Regions from separate parts of the Homo sapiens genome. Here regions 1 and 3 are each linked to region 2. The links come from fine-mapping of genetic effects on gene expression. A gene starts in region 2. Each other region holds a variant in brackets. All regions are shown on one strand. Distances are between the middles of the regions.

The links.
Region 1: its variant is fine-mapped to the expression of ANKMY2 in lymphoblastoid cells (GTEx, PIP above 0.99).
Region 3: its variant is fine-mapped to the expression of ANKMY2 in whole blood (TOPMed, PIP above 0.99).

What each region holds. Positions count from the first base shown.
Region 1 is chr7:17,564,659-17,570,853 of GRCh38, reverse strand. No RefSeq gene overlaps it. Among named protein-coding and RNA genes, the nearest start is that of LINC02889, 8.8 kb to the right of the region's middle. The variant G/A (reference allele first, on the strand shown) is at 3,451.
Region 2 is chr7:16,643,070-16,649,264 of GRCh38, reverse strand. ANKMY2 (ankyrin repeat and MYND domain containing 2) reads left to right here and starts at 3,511. Exons shown (of 10, transcript NM_020319.3): 1 at 3,511-3,758. The coding sequence starts at 3,692. It overlaps BZW2 (basic leucine zipper and W2 domains 2), which reads right to left and starts at 3,084. Exons shown (of 12, transcript NM_014038.3): 1 at 2,977-3,084. RefSeq lists enhancers at 399-910, 3,105-3,384.
Region 3 is chr7:16,612,363-16,618,557 of GRCh38, reverse strand. ANKMY2 (ankyrin repeat and MYND domain containing 2) reads left to right here. Exons shown (of 10, transcript NM_020319.3): 5 at 2,654-2,814. LOC105375169 (a long non-coding RNA gene) reads right to left here. Exons shown (of 5, transcript XR_007060226.1): 2 at 5,286-5,419; 3 at 2,379-2,532; 4 at 1,139-1,182. Among named protein-coding and RNA genes, the nearest start is that of ANKMY2, 30 kb to the left of the region's middle. The variant G/A (reference allele first, on the strand shown) is at 2,796.

The DNA of each region.
Region 1 (6,195 bases), 920 kb before region 2:
TGCTGTTCGGCAGCCTCCACTGCTGATACCCAGGCAAATAGGGTCTGGAGTGGACCTCTAGCAAACTCCAACAGACCTGCAGCTGAGGGTCCTGATTGTTAGAAGGAAAACTAACAAACAGAAAGGACAACCACACCAAAACCCCATCTGTACGTCACTATCATCAAAGACGAAAGGTAGATAAAACCACAAAGTTGGGGAAAAAAATAGAGCAGAAAAGCTGAAAATTCTAAAAATCAGAGTGCCTCTCCCCCTCCAAAGGAACGCAGCTCCTCACCAGCAACAGAACAAAGATGGATGGAGAATGACTTTGGCGAGTTGAGAGAAGAAGTCTTCAGACGATCAAACTTCTCCAGGCTAAAGGAGGAAGTTTGAACCCATTGCAAAGAAGCTAAAAACCTTGAAAAAAGATTAGACGAATGGCTAACTAGAATAACCAGTGTAGAGAATGACCTGATGCAGTTGAAACCCTGATGGAGTTGAAAACCATGGCACAAGAACTACGTGACGAATGCACAAGCTTCAGTAGCCGATTTGATCAACTGGAAGAAAGAGTATCAGTGACTGAAGATCAAATGAATGAAATGAAGCAAGAAGAGAAGTTTAGAGAAAAAAGAGTAAGAAGCAATAAAGACTCCAAGAAATATGGGACTGTGTGAAAAGACCAAATCTACATCTGATTAGTATACCTGAAAGTGACAGGGAGAATGGAACCAAGTTGGAAAACACTCTGCAGGATATTATGCAGGAGAACTTCCCCAACTTAGCAAGGCAGGCCAACATTCAAATTCAAGAAATACAGAGAATGCAACAAAGATACTCCTCAAGAAGAGCAACTCCAAGACACATAATTGTCAGATTCACCAAAGTTGAAATGAAGGAAAAAATGTTAAGGGCAGCCAGAGAGAAAGGTTGGGATACTCACAAAGGGAAGCCCATCAGACTAACAGCGGATCTCTTGGCAGAAACTCTACAAGCCAGAAGAGAGTGGGGGCCAATATTCAACATTCTTAAAGAACAGAATTTTCAACCCAGAATTTCATATCCAGCCAAAGTAAGCTTCATAAGTGAAGGAGAAATAAAATACTTTACAGACAAGCAAATGCTGAGAGATTTTGTCACCACCAGGCCTGCCCTAAAAGAGCTCCTGAAGGAAGCACTAAACATGGAAAGGAACAACCAGTACCAGCCACTGCAAAAACATGCCAAATTGTAAAGACCATCGATGCTAGGAAGAAACTGCATCACTAATGAGCAAAGTAACCAGTTAACATCATAATGACAGGATCAAATTCACAAGTAACAATATTACCTTTAAATGTAAATGGGCTAAATGCTCCAATTAAAAGACACAGACTGGCAAATTGGATAAAGAGTCAAGACCCATCAGTGTGCTGTATTCAGGAGACCCATCTCACATGCAGAGACACACATAGGCTCAAAATAAAGGGATGGAGGAAGATCTACCAAGCAAGTGCAAAACAAAAAAAGGCAGGGGTTACAATCCTAGTCTCTGATAAAACAGTCTTTAAACCAACAAAGATTAAAAGAGACAAAGAAGGCCATTACATAATGGTAAAGGGATCAATTCAACAAGAAGAGCTACCTATCCTAAATATATATGCACCCAATACAGGAGCACCCAGATTCATAAAGCAAGCCCCTAGAGACCTACAAAGAGACTTAGACTCCCACTCAATAATAATGGGAGACTTTAACACCCCACTGTCAACATTAGACAGATCAACAAGACAGAACGTTAACAAGGATATCCAGGACTTGAACTCAGCTCCACACCAAGTGGACCTAATAGACATCTACAGAACTCTCCACCCCAAATCAAAAGAATATATATTCTTAGCACCACATAGCACTTATTCCGAAATTGACCACATAGTTGGAAGTAAAGCACTCCTCAGCAAATGTAAAAGAACAGAAATTATAACAAATTCTCTCTCAGACCACAGTGCAATCAAACTAGAACTCAGGATTAAGAAACTCACTCAAAACCGCTCAACTACATGGAAACTGAACAACCTGCTCCTGAATGACTGCTGGGTACGTAACAAAATGAAGGCAGAAATAAAGATGTTCTTTGAAACCAGTGAGAACAAAGACACAACATACCAGAGTCTCCGGGACACATTCAAAGCAGTGTGTAGAGGGAAATTTATAGCACTAAATGCCCACAAGAGAAAGCAGGAAAGACCTAAAGTTGACACCCTAACATCACAATTAAAAGAACTAGAGAAGCAAGAGCAAACACATTCAAAAGCTAGCAGAAGCCAAGAAATAACTAAGACCAGAGCAGAAATGAAGGCGACAGAGACACAAAAAACCCTTCAAAAAAATCAATGAGTCCAGGAGCTGGTTTTTTGAAAAAATCAACAAAATTGGTAGACTGCTAGCAAGACTAATAAAGAAGAAAAGAGAGACGAATCAAATAGATGCAATAAAAAATGATAAAGGGGATATCACCACTGATCCCACAGAAATACAAACTACCATCAGAGAATACTATAAACACCTCTGCGCAAATAAACTAGAAAATCTAGAAGAAATGGATAAATTCCTCGACACATACACCTTCCCAAGTCTAAACCAGGAAGAAGTTGAATCTCTGAATAGACCAATAACAGGCTCTGAAATTGAGGCAATAATTAATAGCCTACCAACCAAAAAAAATCCAGGACCATACGAATTCACAGCCGAATTGTACCAGAGGTACAAGGAGGAGCTGATACCATTCCTTCTGAAACTATTCCAATCAATAGAAAAAGAGGGAATCCTCCCTAACTCATTTTATGAGGCTAGCATCATCCTGATACCAAAGCCGGGCAGAGACACAACAAAAAAAAGAGAATTTTAGACCAATATCCATGATGAACATTGATGCAAAAATCCTCAATAAAATACTGGCAAACTGAATCCAGCAGCACATCAAAAAGCTTATCCATCATGATCAAGTGGGCTTCATCCCTGGGATGCAAGGCTGGTTCAACAGATGCAAATTAAGAAACATAATGCAGCATATAAACAGAACCAAAGACAAAAACCACATGATTATCTCAATAGATGCAGAAAAGTCCTTTGACAAAATTCAGCAGGCCTACATGCTAAAAACTCTTCATAAATTAGGTATTGATGGGACGTATCTCAAAATCATAAGAGCTATTTATGACAGACCCACAGCCAATATCATACGGAATGGAATATCGTGAAAATGGCCATACTGCCCAAGGTAATTTATAGATTCAATGCCATCCCCATCAAGCTACCAATGACTCTCTTCACAGGATTGGAAAAAATTACTTTACAGTTCATATGGAATCAAAAAAGAGCCCACATTGCCAAGTCAATCCTAAGCCAAAAGAACAAAGCTGGAGGCATCACGCTACCTGACTTCAAACTATACTACAAGGCTACAGTAACCAAAACAGCATGGTACTG[G/A]TACCAAAACAGAGATATAGATCAATGGAACACAACAGAGCCCTCAGAAATAATACCACACATCTACAACCATCTGATCTTTGACAAACCTGACAAAAACAAGAAATGGGGAAAGGATTCCCTATTTAATAAATGGTGCTGGGAAAACTGGCTAGCCATATGTAGAAAGCTGAAACTGGACCCTTTTCTTATACCTTATGCAAAAATTAATTCCAGATGGATTAAATACTTACATGTTAGACCTAAAACCATGAAAATCCTAGAAGAAAACCTAGGCAATACCATTCAGGACATAGGCATGGGCAAGGACTTCATGTCGAAAACACCAAAAGCAATGGCAACAAAAGCCAAAATTGATAAATGGGATCTAATTAAACTAAAGAGCTTCTGCACAGCAAAAGAAACTACCATTAGAGTGAACAGGCAACCTACAGAATGGGAGAAAAAATTTGCAGTCTACTCATCTGACAAAGGGCTAATATCCAGAATTTACAAAGAACTCAAACAAATTTACAAGAAAAAAACAACTCATCAACGTGTGGGCAAAGGGTGTGAACAGACACTTCTCAAAAGAAGACATTGATGCAGCCAACAGACACATGAAAAAATGCTCATCATCACTGGCCATCGGAGAAATGCAAATCAAAACCACAATGAGATACCATCTCACACCAGTTAGAATGGCAATCATTAAAAAGCCAGGAAACAACAGATGCTGGAGAGGATGTGGAGAAATAGGAACACTTTTACACTGTTGGTGGGACTGTAAACTAGTTCAACCATTGTGGAAGTCAGTGTGGTGATTCCTCAAGGATCTAGAATTAGAAATACCATTTGACCCAGCCATCCCATTACTGGGTATATACCCAAAGGATTGTAAATCATGCTGCTATAAAGACACATGCACACGTATGTTTATTGCGGCACTATTCACAATAGCAAAGACTTGGAACCAACCCAAATGTCCATCAATGATAGACTGGATTAAGAAAATGAGGCACATATACACCATGGAATACTATGCAGCCATAAAAAAGGATGAGTTCATGTCCTTTGTAGGGACATGGATGAAGCTGGAAACCATCATTCTGAGCAAACTATCTCAAGGACAAAAAACCAAACACCATATGTTCTCACTCATAGGTGGGAACTGAACAATGAGAACACTTGGACACAGGGCGGGGAACATCACACACCGGGGCTTGTTGTTGGGTGAGGGGAGTGGGGAGGGATAGCATTAGGAGATATAACTAATGTAAATGACGAGTTAATGGGTGTAGCACACCAACATAGCACCTGTATACATATGTAACAAACCTGCACATTGTGCACATGTACCCTAGAACTTAAAGTATAATAAAAAAAGAAAAATAAAACTATACTTTGCCTTTTTATGACATTGATAGTAAAGTAGATTAAGTAATATTAATTATAGACTCCTAGAAAGTAGGTAGTATACATTTCCTTTCTCAACACAGGACATACTAGAAAATTGCTTTTATAAGTGATCTCTTTGGCTTTTCTGTTTTTCCAATTAATTGGTTATAACCATACCACTTAAATCTTATCTTTCTGAGCACCATGAAAATGCTCATGATTGTAATACTTTTCATAAGCACATGTCTAAAAATGGTTTGTATTTGTATGTTTTTTAGAATATGATGTTTTAAAAATATTTTATGCAGATATCTTTGTGGTTTTTTTATGGATAAACTGTCATATACCATAGTCTTATTGTTTTCTTGTGGATTAATGCAGACTGGACAGATTGAGACTCTGGGTACATTTTTTAGAATAGTTTAAACATATTATATAACATATTGAAACTGTAGAATATTTTTCCAGAACTTTAAGGAAATTTATAATTTTACTGCTTGGCTCTTTGTCCATCAGATTGTTACTTGGTTAAATGACTTTTGATTAAACAAAATACTAAGGCTAATAACCTTGTGTTTCATCCAAGTAAAAATATAAGGATGAGATGTTTTATGTGCTCTAAAATAAGCTAGTTATTTTATTGTCTGGCTGATAGTACCCTGTTATGTAGAGGACTACTTGTTATATTTAAATTGGTAACTGGGTATTTGTGGAGTGTATGAAATAAAAAATGTTTTAATAGCACTGATATGTATAGTACTTTAAAATTTCTTGGTAACTTCCTCAACATCTTATGAGATAAACAGGAGGAAATTACTATTGTGTCAATTTGGTAGCCAGGGCATTAACAATTTAGGTAAATTTCCAGGTCTGTACAAGGAGTCAGGATTAGAATAGCCTTCAGGTTTTGAAGGCAAATGCATTCTTCAAATCCGGGCTTCTGATGAGTCACAGTGGTGAGGAAGAAGCCCCTTTTAAGAGATCCTTACTCTCTGCTATTTCTGTGGGTAGCACTGTTTTGGTTTATTTGAAACCAACTTCCTCATAAATCGTTAAGTTGGAAAGGATATGTGGTCAGTTTATTATTCTTAAAACATATGCAAAGGCATTTGTCTAGTCGTGGAAATAAAGTATATTAGAAGCATCTCTTGTGCAATCTGTACTCTATTGCTCATATTAATTGCTTTCCTACACATTTAAAACTAGGTTTCAAGTGGATGGAATTATTCAGAAAGTTGAGTATATATTATTTGGCTATGTAAATATGCATATATACACATATATTCACATATATTTGAGAGGGAGAGGGAAAGAGTCTGTTTATATGGCCATAACTAAGGTAGTTGGAGGTAGTAGAAATAGTTGTTT
Region 2 (6,195 bases):
ACACTGGGTTAAACCTGAGAAACAAAGATAAATTTGACCTAGTTAATGTATACTGTAGAATGAGAAGGGACCAAACAGATTAATAATAACTATAATAGAATGCGATGAGAAAGTGCTTGTTTTAGGTATTTTCATGGAGATTCAGATGAAGAAGCAATGATGTCAATTTAGGGGGGCGGTAAAAGAGGGGTCGCTAGAATCCATAAGAAGAGAGAATTAAAGGCTGCCAGCAATGATACCAGTAGCCATGTTGCATATCAATATCCTCCATGTACAAAGATTTTACTTATAACCCTTGCCAAGAGACATGAATAAATGTATTTACTAGCATGTATATTTCCCTTACTGGATAGAGAGGGAGAGATGAACACAAAAGCTGAAGAAAAGAGGTTTTGTTTAAATTGTGTCTGGAAAGTTGAATAGTTCATCAGATCTGGAGAGGAGATTCAGTGAAAAGGGAAGGGAAATCATTCAGAGGAGGAGAAAAGCAGGAACAAAGGGGTGGAAATTACCGGCAGGTTGGGGAACAAGCAGAGTGGTGACCTTAGAGCCCAGTGTGTGGGAGGGCCCAGATGACTGGAAATGCCTGCTGAGACCATGGATGGATTGGAACCTTCCAGGCCAGACCCAGCCCTCTATTCTGTGGCCAGCAGAGAGCCATTCAAAGAATGATGGGTGCTCAATGTTTATTGAACTGGTAGTTCCCTGAATTAGCTAGATGGAGACAGGTGAGAGAGAAGCAGGCTACTTAAGATGCATTGCAATAGCTCTAGAGTGGTAGATATGAGAGGACACATACAACATTTCAAACATTTCAGAAATCATTATTCCAATTCTGACTTGACACTTCCTAATATGGGATTGTGGGCAAATTATTTCCCTTACTTTCTGTCCTCTTATTTGCAAAGTGGGTATAATATTGGCTCATTCCTGGGTTGTCATAACACTAGAATAATTCTATGCAAAGCATCTGGTAGAATATCTAGCACAGACTAAATACTCAATATGAAGTAGCTATCTTATTATCAATAAAACTTCTTTGATGTGAATCTGTTTTAATATGCTCATTATCTAATCTTATCCCTACATTAAATATTTACACCATACAAAACTACTAATGTAATCAATCCATCTAATGAACAGTACCCATTATGAATCTGTTTCTAGAAATGTAAACTGAACATGATTTATTTGCATTTCTAGGTAGATGTTAGATTCTCTTTCAACGTTATTGTCTCTAAATTCACTGGTCATGTATTCAGAGAGCACTAAATACCAACCAAGTGTCATAAGGCATCAAGAAAATAGATAGTAAGCTGCTATCCTCGAGGAACTGACAACCCCAGTGAGACAAACAGGTGTGACCTTCAAGTAACCATGGCCCAGATTTGGCACAAGAGATGGAAATACTAGCAATGAAGTACCCAATTATGTGTATGCATCTGCTGGTAAGATGCTAAATCACATGTTCCAGGAGGTTACCACTCAACTGTTTTTTTAGGTTTGTGGGTTTCTTCCGCATGATACTATGTTATAAATCAATTGTAACTCTGAACTAACAGCATTACAAAAGATTGGTCACTCTCAGGAGCCTTACTACTTGCTTGAACAGCCACATCATTATTAAAGCATCATCCAACAAAAGTATCTTTGTTATACACTGAGATGAATAATTTCAAACCATTTTCATGTAAGATGTTCTGGCTCAGATCTGTCCCAGTCTTTAATGCTGAAGCTTTAGGGGGGAAAAACAGCTGGAGTTTAGGAAAGATTTTTGCTAAAGGCAGGAAATAATGATAAACATATTCCAGGAGATTTCAGATGTTAGTGAAAGCTTCACGCAAAATAAATGCCTAAGGCCAGAGGAAAATGCATTTCGCTTTTCGTATGGCGCTATGAGAAGAAACAGTGGTCCTGGGGATGCTTAACAAAAACCACCTACATAATTACTCAAATATTTCTCTTTGACACATACACGTCTCTTTGACACACATATTGAGAGAAACATCAATACTACTCTGTAGGGAAACAACAGTAAAACATAAACACTAATTTCCAAAGAAACTTTCATTGATGATGTAAATATAAATCTGCACCCTGGAGAAATGACTGATTCCCGCATTTTAGCAAGCAAATCTTATTCTGAAATACACACTTGTATTTACCCCCATCTACCTATGGTCGAAGCTCCAGGCTACATATTACAGTTGAATGAAGGTTGGATTAAGAGGCTAATCTAAGGCTATATATAGGCAGCAACACCAATTTAATCTCCGCCCTCTCCAACCTCCCCACCCTCCACTCCCTATTTCCATAAATCTCAAGATCTGAGTTACAAAGAGAACCGAGAACTCTAGCAGAGCAAAGAAGCCCTTCCTTCCCCCTCCCACAGGCTGTCTCTCATAAACGAAGTATTAGTGCAAGTGTAAATTGTTTCCAAACATCTTTAACAAGCAACATTGGGCGATCAGGTTTTCTTCTACAGCTTCCACAGAGGCCAAAGAGATGACAAGTAGTGGGGAGGGCGAGGATCACCAGCGTAAAAACTACCTTCTCCCGAGTCTGTTCTCACTGACTCGCTAGTAATGGGGCGCTGTCCTTGCGACCCCTACCTAGCCCAGAGCCCCGGCCCCAGCCTCCCCGGGAGCCGCATCTGGCGGTGCCACGCACGAGACCATGTGCACCCGCCACTTCCCACCGCGTGGCTGGCCCCCGCCCGCCCGCCCGCGGTCCCAGGGTCTCCCGAGGCGGCCAAACGTTGCGAGTCGGAGGTCTTCATCCCAGGGCACTGATACCCCGTACGCGCCGTGATGATGAGGTGGAGCGGGGGCTTCTCCACCGCGAGGCAGGAAGCCGCCCCAGGAGGCACATGCTTCCTCCCCGCCAGCTCCTGCCCGATGGAAACCCCGGCGGGGCGGCAGTCGCTACTCTCGCAACCCTCACGGCGCCCCTTGCCTCACCTGGGCTGCTTCTCACCTGTCCGAGGAGGTAGCGACGACGCGCAAGGCTGGGGGCTGCGGCGATTCGTGCAGCAGCAGCGGCAGCAGCAGCAGCAGCAGCAGTGGCGGCAGACAATGGAGGAGTGAAGGACAGACACATTGACATAGACACACGGAACCCGGCGCAGCCCCGCCTCCCGTACCGCCCCCGTCTCCTAGACCGCCCCCGCCCAGACTGCGCCACTCCCGGGGGAATGGTGGGGGTACGGCGACAACCTGGGGCCTCTGCATGCCCCAGAAAGCCGTCGCTGAGCACATAACTGCCAGCTGTAGAATTTTCAATATTACATGTGGCGAAATATTTGAACCGGACAGGATAGGGGAGCGGAACGTGTAGGAGGAATTTAATTCCCCCCTCCAGCTTTCTGCATTTGGTTTTGTCCTCCCAGGTTGCTCCAATGGCGATCTCTCGCTACCGCCTCCTGCGGCTCCTCCTCCTCGGCAGGGCCAATGACAGGCGGCAGGCGGTGACCGCCGCAGGGCCTGCGGAGACCGTCCGCCTGGCTCGCCCGAGCTCGCCCGCTGTCCGCCAGCCCGCGGGAGGGAGGAGAGAAGCGAAGCGTTTCCGCGGTTGGCTACTCAGTGTCTTGGTCTCAAGTTGCCTCATTGCGGCTGGCGTTCCCAATACAGACGCATCGTTTCTTTTTTAATACTCCCTAAGAAAGGGAATAACCTTCAAGCTGGCGGGAGCAATGGTTCACATAAAGAAAGGCGAGCTGACCCAGGAGGAGAAGGAGCTACTGGAAGTCATCGGGAAAGGTACGGGTGCTGGGCTGCGACGCGGCCGCGGCCAGCCTGGCCGGGGGGCGTGGCGGAGCCCGGGGGGCGCTCCTGGCCTGGGTGACCTTTGGCTGCGGTTCTGCAAGGTTTGCAGCCTGGAACCGGGAAAGAGCGTTTCTCCCTTTGGTCTGGGAAAGGTTGCAGGGGCGGAGAGGTGGGGAGGCAGAAGCAGTGCTGGGACAAGAGGGGTAGTTACAGAGGCTCGGCCTCTAAATCCGCTTTTGGAAACGTACGGATTTCCACGCCCCGCCTTAGGTTAATGCGAGCTTCCCGGGGTGTGGACCCCAGTGTGTGAATTCTTCACTGCTCCCGAGGGATTTTGACCGCGGTCAGTCCTGGTAGTTTCAGGTTCTTAGGCGGGTGTCTAAATGACCCTTTAGACTTCCGCAGGCCGAATGATCTGGATCCTTTGCCGATCCCCGCCCCCGCTTGGGAGTGGAGGGCGCCCTTAGGGAGAGGGGTTCTTCATAAGGGTACAGAACTAGGTCTGTAATTTGCTGCATTGAGACTTCCGTATCCAGGGCCTCCCTGGCTTCCAGAAGCCCCGACAGCCTCAGGAACCCTAGAGAGACAAGGAAATTGGCGAGGCCTCCACACCCACCCCTCGGCCCACGTTGCACAGATGAGACCTTCTAATCGCGCTCCTTCGCGCTTTCTTGTCCACTCCCCCAAGGCGTGCCCCACTTCCGCAGTGCTGAGTCCCAGCGGGGAGCCCCGAGGACGAGCCAGAAGCCATATTTCCCCGGAGTCCCCGAGTGGACGTCCCAGAGGAGTTCCCTGCCGAGTCCCGTTACCTGGCAGGTGACATCAGCGTGACTGCATGCTTCTTCTGCACCCTCACGGTGCAGGGATGGTGATGCGTGCGACTCCGGGCAATTAATGTGGTGATTTTAAACTCAATAATAATATAGCCATGTTTGTCCTCGAATGGCAGAGATGCCAGTCATTGCAGCATAAGGCTTCCCAGTTTCCAGTTTTATTTACTTAGTAGCCAGGCTGAAATGTGGAATCCTAGAGAATAAGGCAGATTTATTCTTCATAGCGACAAGGAAACTCCACATGCGAAGGAGAAAAAATTCCGGTTTGAACTCAACAGGTGCTGATGAGCTGAGCCCACCCGATCTGATCTCAACTATTCTAAGTCAGTCACAGCTATATCTATCAATGATGTGTTCTTTGCCTGGAATTTGGGGATTTGGGTTAGAGTTTAGATTGTTGTACTGCATGGTTCTTGCTGACCTATTTGGCATTTCAGTCTTTCAGTTCTTCCTGTCTCTAGGTAATTTCTCCCTGCCTTTGATGGCTCTGGGATTCAATTAAGCAAACATGCAAGTTCTAGCTGTGTGCCAGGTACTGTGCTGGGCAAAAAGGAGACAAAGGATCAATTCACAATCCACCAGGGACAAAAATTCTTTTAGGCAGGACAGAGCTAGTACATGTCCTCTCTCTCTCTCGCTCTCGCTGTCTCTTTCTCTCTCTCTCTCGTTTGTTTGAGACAGGATCTCACTCTTCACCCAGGCTGGAGTTGCAGCTCTCTGCAGCCTCCACCTCCCTAGTGGCTGGGACTACAGGTGCGAGCCACCATGCCCGGCTACTTTAGAAAGATTTTTTTTTTTTTTTTGTAGAGATGGGGTGGTGGGGGTCTCCCTATGTTGCCCAGGCTGCTCTCGAACTCCTGGGCTCAAGTGATCCTCCTGCCTCGGCCTCCCTAAGTGCTGGGATTACAGGCATGAGCCACTGGGCCTGGCCCATCATGTGATCTCTTAAAAGTGAAAAATAGTGAGCAGTTTTATAAATTGAGTCTTTGAGAGGGGAGAAGGGATTCCTTGGATACATTCTCAGGTGTCCATCAGTATTTATTTTGAAGATTATATAAACCTGAATTAATGTGCATTTATTCTGGTTAGTGCTGTGATATTTCTGGGCTCACACGGTGCATCAAGTTGCATGAGTGCACTGATGCTTTCATCGCTTTCATTGGACCATGCCAATGAGAAAAGAACTGATGTGGACCTAGTATGTGATGCATTCTTGTCAAATGAAGGTCTGTGGGACATCACTTGCACTCATAAAGAAAAGTAATGGGAGATATGAGAAAAACAACCATAGCCAACGTTTATTGACTGTTATTGCAAGCCACACATAATTTTAAGTACTTTACATATATTAATGCATTTAATTTGGATGAGCTAGGAATTAATTTTAAGCTATGACAGTATGAGAGACAGCATGGGATAGTGGTTAACCATGCAGGTCTGGTTTGAAATTCTAACTCATTTACTGGTGATGTGGCCTTTGGGCAAGTGACTTTTCCTGAGCCTCAAGTCCTCTGTGTGAAAAATAGGAATAATAATAATACCCACCTCACAACGTTGTTATGGGGATGAAAGTAGTTAGTATAGTTAAAGCATTCGAA
Region 3 (6,195 bases), 31 kb after region 2:
GTGTTCTGGTACTTAATAAAAGCATAGAGTACCAAAAATGGTATTGTGATCACTATTAAATTCTCTTTTCAAATCAGGGAAGTTTTCTTTTATCATTTGTTTAATTCTCCATCTATTCCTTTTTTTCCTTTGAGATGTCTGTTAATTTTCACTATTAGATTTCCTGGATTTGTTCTTTAGCTCTTTCATCTGTTGTATAATGATTTCTATATCTGAATTTTTCTGTTTTGAGATATTTCATCCACTCGATCTTTTTTGTTTGTTTTGTTGAAACAGGGTGTCTGTTACCCAGGCTTGAATGCAGTGGTGTGATCAAAACTCACTGCAGCTTTGGCTGGGCATGGTGGCTCACGCCTGTAATCCCAGCACTTTGGGAGGCTAAGGCAGGCAGATCACCTGAGGTCAGGAGTTTGAGACCAGCCTGGCAAACATAGTGAAACCCCATCTGAAAATACAAAATAGATTAGCCAGGTGTGGTGGCACACACCTGTAGTCTCAGCTACTTGGGAAGCTGAGTCAGGAGAATTGCTTGAATCCAGGAGGCAGAGGTTGCAGTGAGCCAAGATCACGTGACTGCACTACAGCCTGGGCAACAGAGCCAGACTCTGTCTCACCCAAAAAAAAAAAAAAAAAAAAAAAACACGCTCACTGTAGCCTCCAACTCCTGGCCCCAAGCAATCCTCCTGCCTTAGTATCCCAAGTAGCTGGGACTACAGGCACATACCACTGTATCCAGCTAATTTTTTAAATTATTTGTAGAAACGGGTTTGTGCTGTGTTACCCAGGCTGGTCTGCACCTCCTGGGCTTAAGCAATCCTCCTGCCTCAGCCTCCCAAAGTGCTGGGATTATAGGCATGAGCCACCATGCCTGCCCTTCATCCTCTGTGTTACTAGTTTAGTTCTCAATAGTAACCAGGATCACCTCTTTCAGTTTGCCTGTTAATTTTTAAAATTTGAATCTCTCTGCGGCTCTTGAAAGTCTATTTATATATTATAATTGAATCTGCTTAAGTGCATTTATTAGCTGTAGTTGTGGTAGTTATTGTTATGGTAAATGTTACCCACACACTTTCAACCCAAGAAGCCCTCTGTTGGAGGCATGGCGTAGTCTTCAGAATTGCTGGATCCCCATACGTACCTTGTTCTGTACCTCCCAGGAAGTCAGGTAAAGCTGATAGGGTCCTGGATCAGTGGAAGAAGAAAATTTAATGTCTCAATTAAGACATTAATTAATTACTTTAGAAAATTATCACTCTCCTTATAGAATCTTCAAGAAGAGAGAAAAATGACATTCAACCAAGCAAATCTAATGCAAGTGGGTTATGAATACAGCATCAAAATCAACACAGGTAACTGTGGGGAAATTTAGAAATGTGTATGAAGAAACCAGGGAAGATGAAGACAAACTGCATATGCTTCCTTAAAACAAAATCTACATCGAGCTTCAATAAAAAGATAGGTGTTCCCATAAAAAAAAAAAGTTCTAAAATGTCTCATCAAAAGTATTCAACCATTTAATTGAGACATTAAGCTGGTTTGGTCAGCAAACCAGCTGAGGCACAAGGATGAAGCCTGCCACTCCTGGGTTCTCCCAGGAACTTTCAGGGACAAGCAGAGCCCTCTGCCAGCCTCAAGCGCCAGCGTCCAGCTGGCCCACAGTGCCATCCCCACGCAGGTCACCTGTTGTCGGCAGGATCAAGCAGGCGCTCCCAGGACCAAGCACAAGCAGGCAGGGGCCATGCAGGCTACCCAGGGGGAACCACTCTCCGGGAGCGGGGGCCATGGCGTCTGCACGCTCTCCCCAGGCGCGCCTCCGCTGGTCCCCCAGCCCTCATCAGGCAGAGCGGAGGAAGAAGTCTCCTCCGGAGATCCAGGAAGAGCCTGCGCCCGCCCTCCTGTGTGCCCTGTGGCTTCTGCCTGCTTGCCCAGAGTGGCCACTGCTTTGCTCCAGAGAGGTAGTGGAGAGGGAGCTAGGGAGGGGGGGGCGCCGCAGGAGCACACTTGCAAACCAGCAGCTTCGCTAGGGAAGAATTTGCTTTCATAGAACCATTTTTAACTAGAGATGGCTTAGAGAAGTGGCTTGGAATTCTATGCAAAGCCACGATGTGGATTCCAAGCTTATGGGAGCGAAAGCCTTTTCTCTACATTTCACAAAGAGGGCAAGCTTTTCTCAAATTTAGGGGGTAGGGGATAAGGGGGAGGGGGTTTAGTTTAATATTATCATTATAGTAAGAACAATACTTTATATGGAGTAAATTTAAATTTTGTGTAAATACAACTGGATGTGATTAGGGAAACATGAGCATCATTTGCGTAGGCTGGGAAGAAGAGACATTTAACTTACAAGCAACTGTTAGAAAATACTTAAGGTCTCTTACAAGTTGAGCAGTGCTTTCTTTTGTAATCCACATAATCTTCGTATGTATTTTGGATTCTGTGTCTTTCAAAGATTGTTTATCAACTTTACAAGGAATGTTTATAAATGTTCTCTAAAATATTTTATCTCTCCTCCTCCTCCTCTACTCTCCTTTCCTGAAAAATAAAGATATTGGTGCATGTTTACATCACAAAAATAGCAACATAATTAATTTTAAAAACCAGATGTGTTATTTTTAATACTAAAACTACAACTTTTCTATTTTTCTATGAAAAGGTCAACATGATTGTGTGACCATAATCAACAATTTCTTTCCTCGAGAGAGACTGGATTATTACACTAAGCCCCAGGGACTGGATAAAGAGCCAAAACTGCCCCCAAAGTTGGCAGGCCCGCTGCACAAAATTATCACCACAAC[G/A]AATCTTCATCCTGTCAAGGTAGTGTGGTGTCTACCGTATTTGCTTTTTATGTAAATATTGCTTCAGAGTTTAAACTGCTTTTATTATACAGGATCATAATTGTCTTGGGGTGGGTTTTGTAGTTGTAGAGCTTGCAGTGGGCTCTTTTGGCCTGTTAATTTATTGAAGGAACACTCTCCGTTGAAACCTGGAAGTGAGTGAGCGAGAGAGAAACAGACTAAACCATCAGGAAAAGCCACGCAAAGAGATGGGTTTGCTGAAGCCTAGCTTCCACCTCATCCCACCGGGAGCTCTGGAGTGTGAGTGGCTCCAGAGAGGCAAAGGAATTCTTTTGTATTCATCAGTCTGTTGTTGGGTGGGGCCTGTCTCCAGAGGGAAAGGACAGCCTCCCACATAGTACCAAGTGAGGTGGCTCCCTTTCAATGAGGGTAGTCCTCTGGAGAAAAGACCATAGTAGCTGACCCTGAGAGCCCCGGGGGCCTGGTATACAGGCCTGGTAAAAAGGATGTATGTGGGGGCACTAACAGCATCTATTACAATAATTGTCTTTCTAAGAAAGATTCTGAAATGTAATCATGAGCACATTTTTAAACTAAGTGGCTATTTGATGCCTTTAAATAACATAGTTCTTCCAGTAATTCATCAAATCAGATTTTCAAATTTCATAGGCCAACACATAAGTTCAAATGGCTTAACTGGGAAACTTCAAGAGCTATTCTGAAATATTTCACTGCTATTGTCTTCCAGATTTTAAAAATACAGGCTTTTGCTGTTGTTGTTTACACATAATTTTTTCAAAAAAATCCAGCTAAACAAGTATAATTTCCTCAATAATCATCACAGAAAACTACACAGCTACATGTGTGCTACAGTGATGAGGTCCTATTTCAATTTCAGTATCTATCACATGCTTTTACTCATAAAGATTTGATAGTAGTTCAGAGCTGTTTAAGTGAGCAAGATACTAAGTTGTGTCAAAAGTTAAGGTTCTTCCTTAACATAAGGCGTTACTATCATGTAGTAAAATAGATTTCCCCAGAAGTTTATTACGAAAGAAGAATCTGTGGAGTCTGCTGAGCATCATGAAAATGAGTGGACAGTTCTTATAAGGTGACTCTTCTGAAGACTGACACTCACTCAAAGATATAAGATCCAAAATGTGTATAATCTTATTACTTTGTTGATGCATCCCTGTGCATCTTTCTTGAGTACTTGAAGGTTGAGAAACAAACCAAATTTACTCATTGTGTGTTCCTCCACCCAAATTAATTTTCTAGGCCCTTAAGAGAGATGACAAACTAGTAGATACCTTTCCCATCAGACAGAAGAGTGGAATCTGCTATTTTTATTTTAGAAAACTCAGAGTTTTTCTTAATATTCTGGAAGAACTGCCAGAGGCAACACTTGTGATACTAAGTGGGCAAATTCAGTTGTGAACTGCATACTCATGTTTCTAGTGGAGATTACAGAGGGCTTAGAATTTAACCTTTAAAAAATATGTATTTTCTTCTGTGTTACTGTTTCTCTCCCTCCCAGCATACCTAGGGAAAAGAGAACTCCCAAGAGAAGCATTGACCTCTGTCCATGGCACTCTCTCAGGCATGGGCTGGCTGGGATGGGGAGACAGGTTTCTGTCAGGGTACAGTATTTCTCAATGTAGAGAATGTGTGTGGTTCTGTAAGACTCTTGTTCCTCCACTGCCTGAGCAATACAGGATATTCTGGCTTAGACTGACTTGAAGAAGTTCCCTGTACTTTTCTGATTCACTGTCTTTCATATCTATGTTTCTGCCTCTTCAGATTGCAGTAAGGGTTTGTGGAATTTTTTTTTTTTTTTTTTTTGAGATAGGGTCTTGCTCTGTCGCCCAGCCTGGAGTGCAGTGGTACAGATCTCGGCCTTCCAGGTTAAAGCGATTCTCCTGCCTCAGCCTCCTGAGTAGCTGGGATTACAGGTGCCCACCACCACGCCTGGCTAATTTTTGTATTTTGGGTAGAGATGGGGTTTCTCCATGTTGGCCAGGCTTATGGAATAATTTTTTATGTTTACTTGGAACCCAGTCTTTCAGGGTTAAATGTCCTAATAATTATTAATACTCTACCTTCAGTTATCTTTGAAGGTATATATTTTAAGTAAATTAGATTGAGGGCATAATTATGCAGACAATAATTTGTAAAGGTATATAGTCTGAAATAGACTACATAATATTTTTTGGAGTATGAAGGGGGCTATCCTATTATATACCTTCCTCCAGACCAGACCTTGCTTTTTGTAGGTATAAACAATCTATTCGCTCGAAACCTTTTCTTTTATCCACCCTTGGGATCTAAAAGCCACCCAGTTGCTTTTGTTACTGTGGCCCATTTTTATTGCTCTACCCCCTTTTTAAGCTAGCATGGCATTTCCTATGGAGTATTATTTAAAAACTAATAACCACTGTGTAATGTTAAACAGCTTTTAAAACAACCTCGGAAATTCTCCCCAATACACACCTCACTTTTCATTACAGTGCACCTAATATAGCTGTATTTGTGTCTAGATTAAGTGGCTGCCGTAGCAATAAGGATGCATTTGTTTTCAAAAGGGATTTGGAGGATTGTGCTGATGCCCAGAATATGAAGGTTATCTAGGAGAAAAACAAAATCACAGAAAAAAATGTCAGCAGAGCAGGGTCTCTAAGTGTACAGGAGGCAGATGTGCACAGAACAATCATGTCTTTGATTATTGTGATTTTCAAGCCCAGTATTGTAGATTTAGCAGTTTTTAAAAATAGGATTTAAAAAATAAAAAGAATTCAAAATGCCACTACATAAACATATTCTCAGGTAGCAATCCTTTGAATGGTAAAAATTTATCTAGTTTTTAATGCCAATAGAAATATATTTATTTGCTCCTCCTCATTAATTAATAAAAAGGATTTCCTTTATAATATATTACTTCATAATGCTGCAGAGATTAAGGAAGGAAACAAGTACAAATATTATTCTTTTGTGTGCAGCTATGTAGTTGTTTCAATAAGCGCATGTTAATGATGTGGTTATTTGTCATTTTTCTTGGTGTATATTTGTGCTGTGTATTAAAACATAGATAAGGTCTGATGTCTCCAAACAAAAAATTATTAATCTGGGCTCTGTTTGAAATTTTTTGAAAGAATTCTCACTTGTAAGTTTAAGATTCTATAGTTGATTATAAATGCCATATATAAAAATACTGATCAAACAACTTTAAATGATTACAATTAGCAGAAGTATAAACAGATAATTAATGAGTCTTTTCTTCTCCACCATAAATTGTCAAAGTATGTTTTGGTAGAGAGAGTTATCAATAAGGATTCTGATTATACTTACTTCATTAAGTCTAATAACTTATTATTAAGTGCTGGATTTTTGTAAAACACTAGAT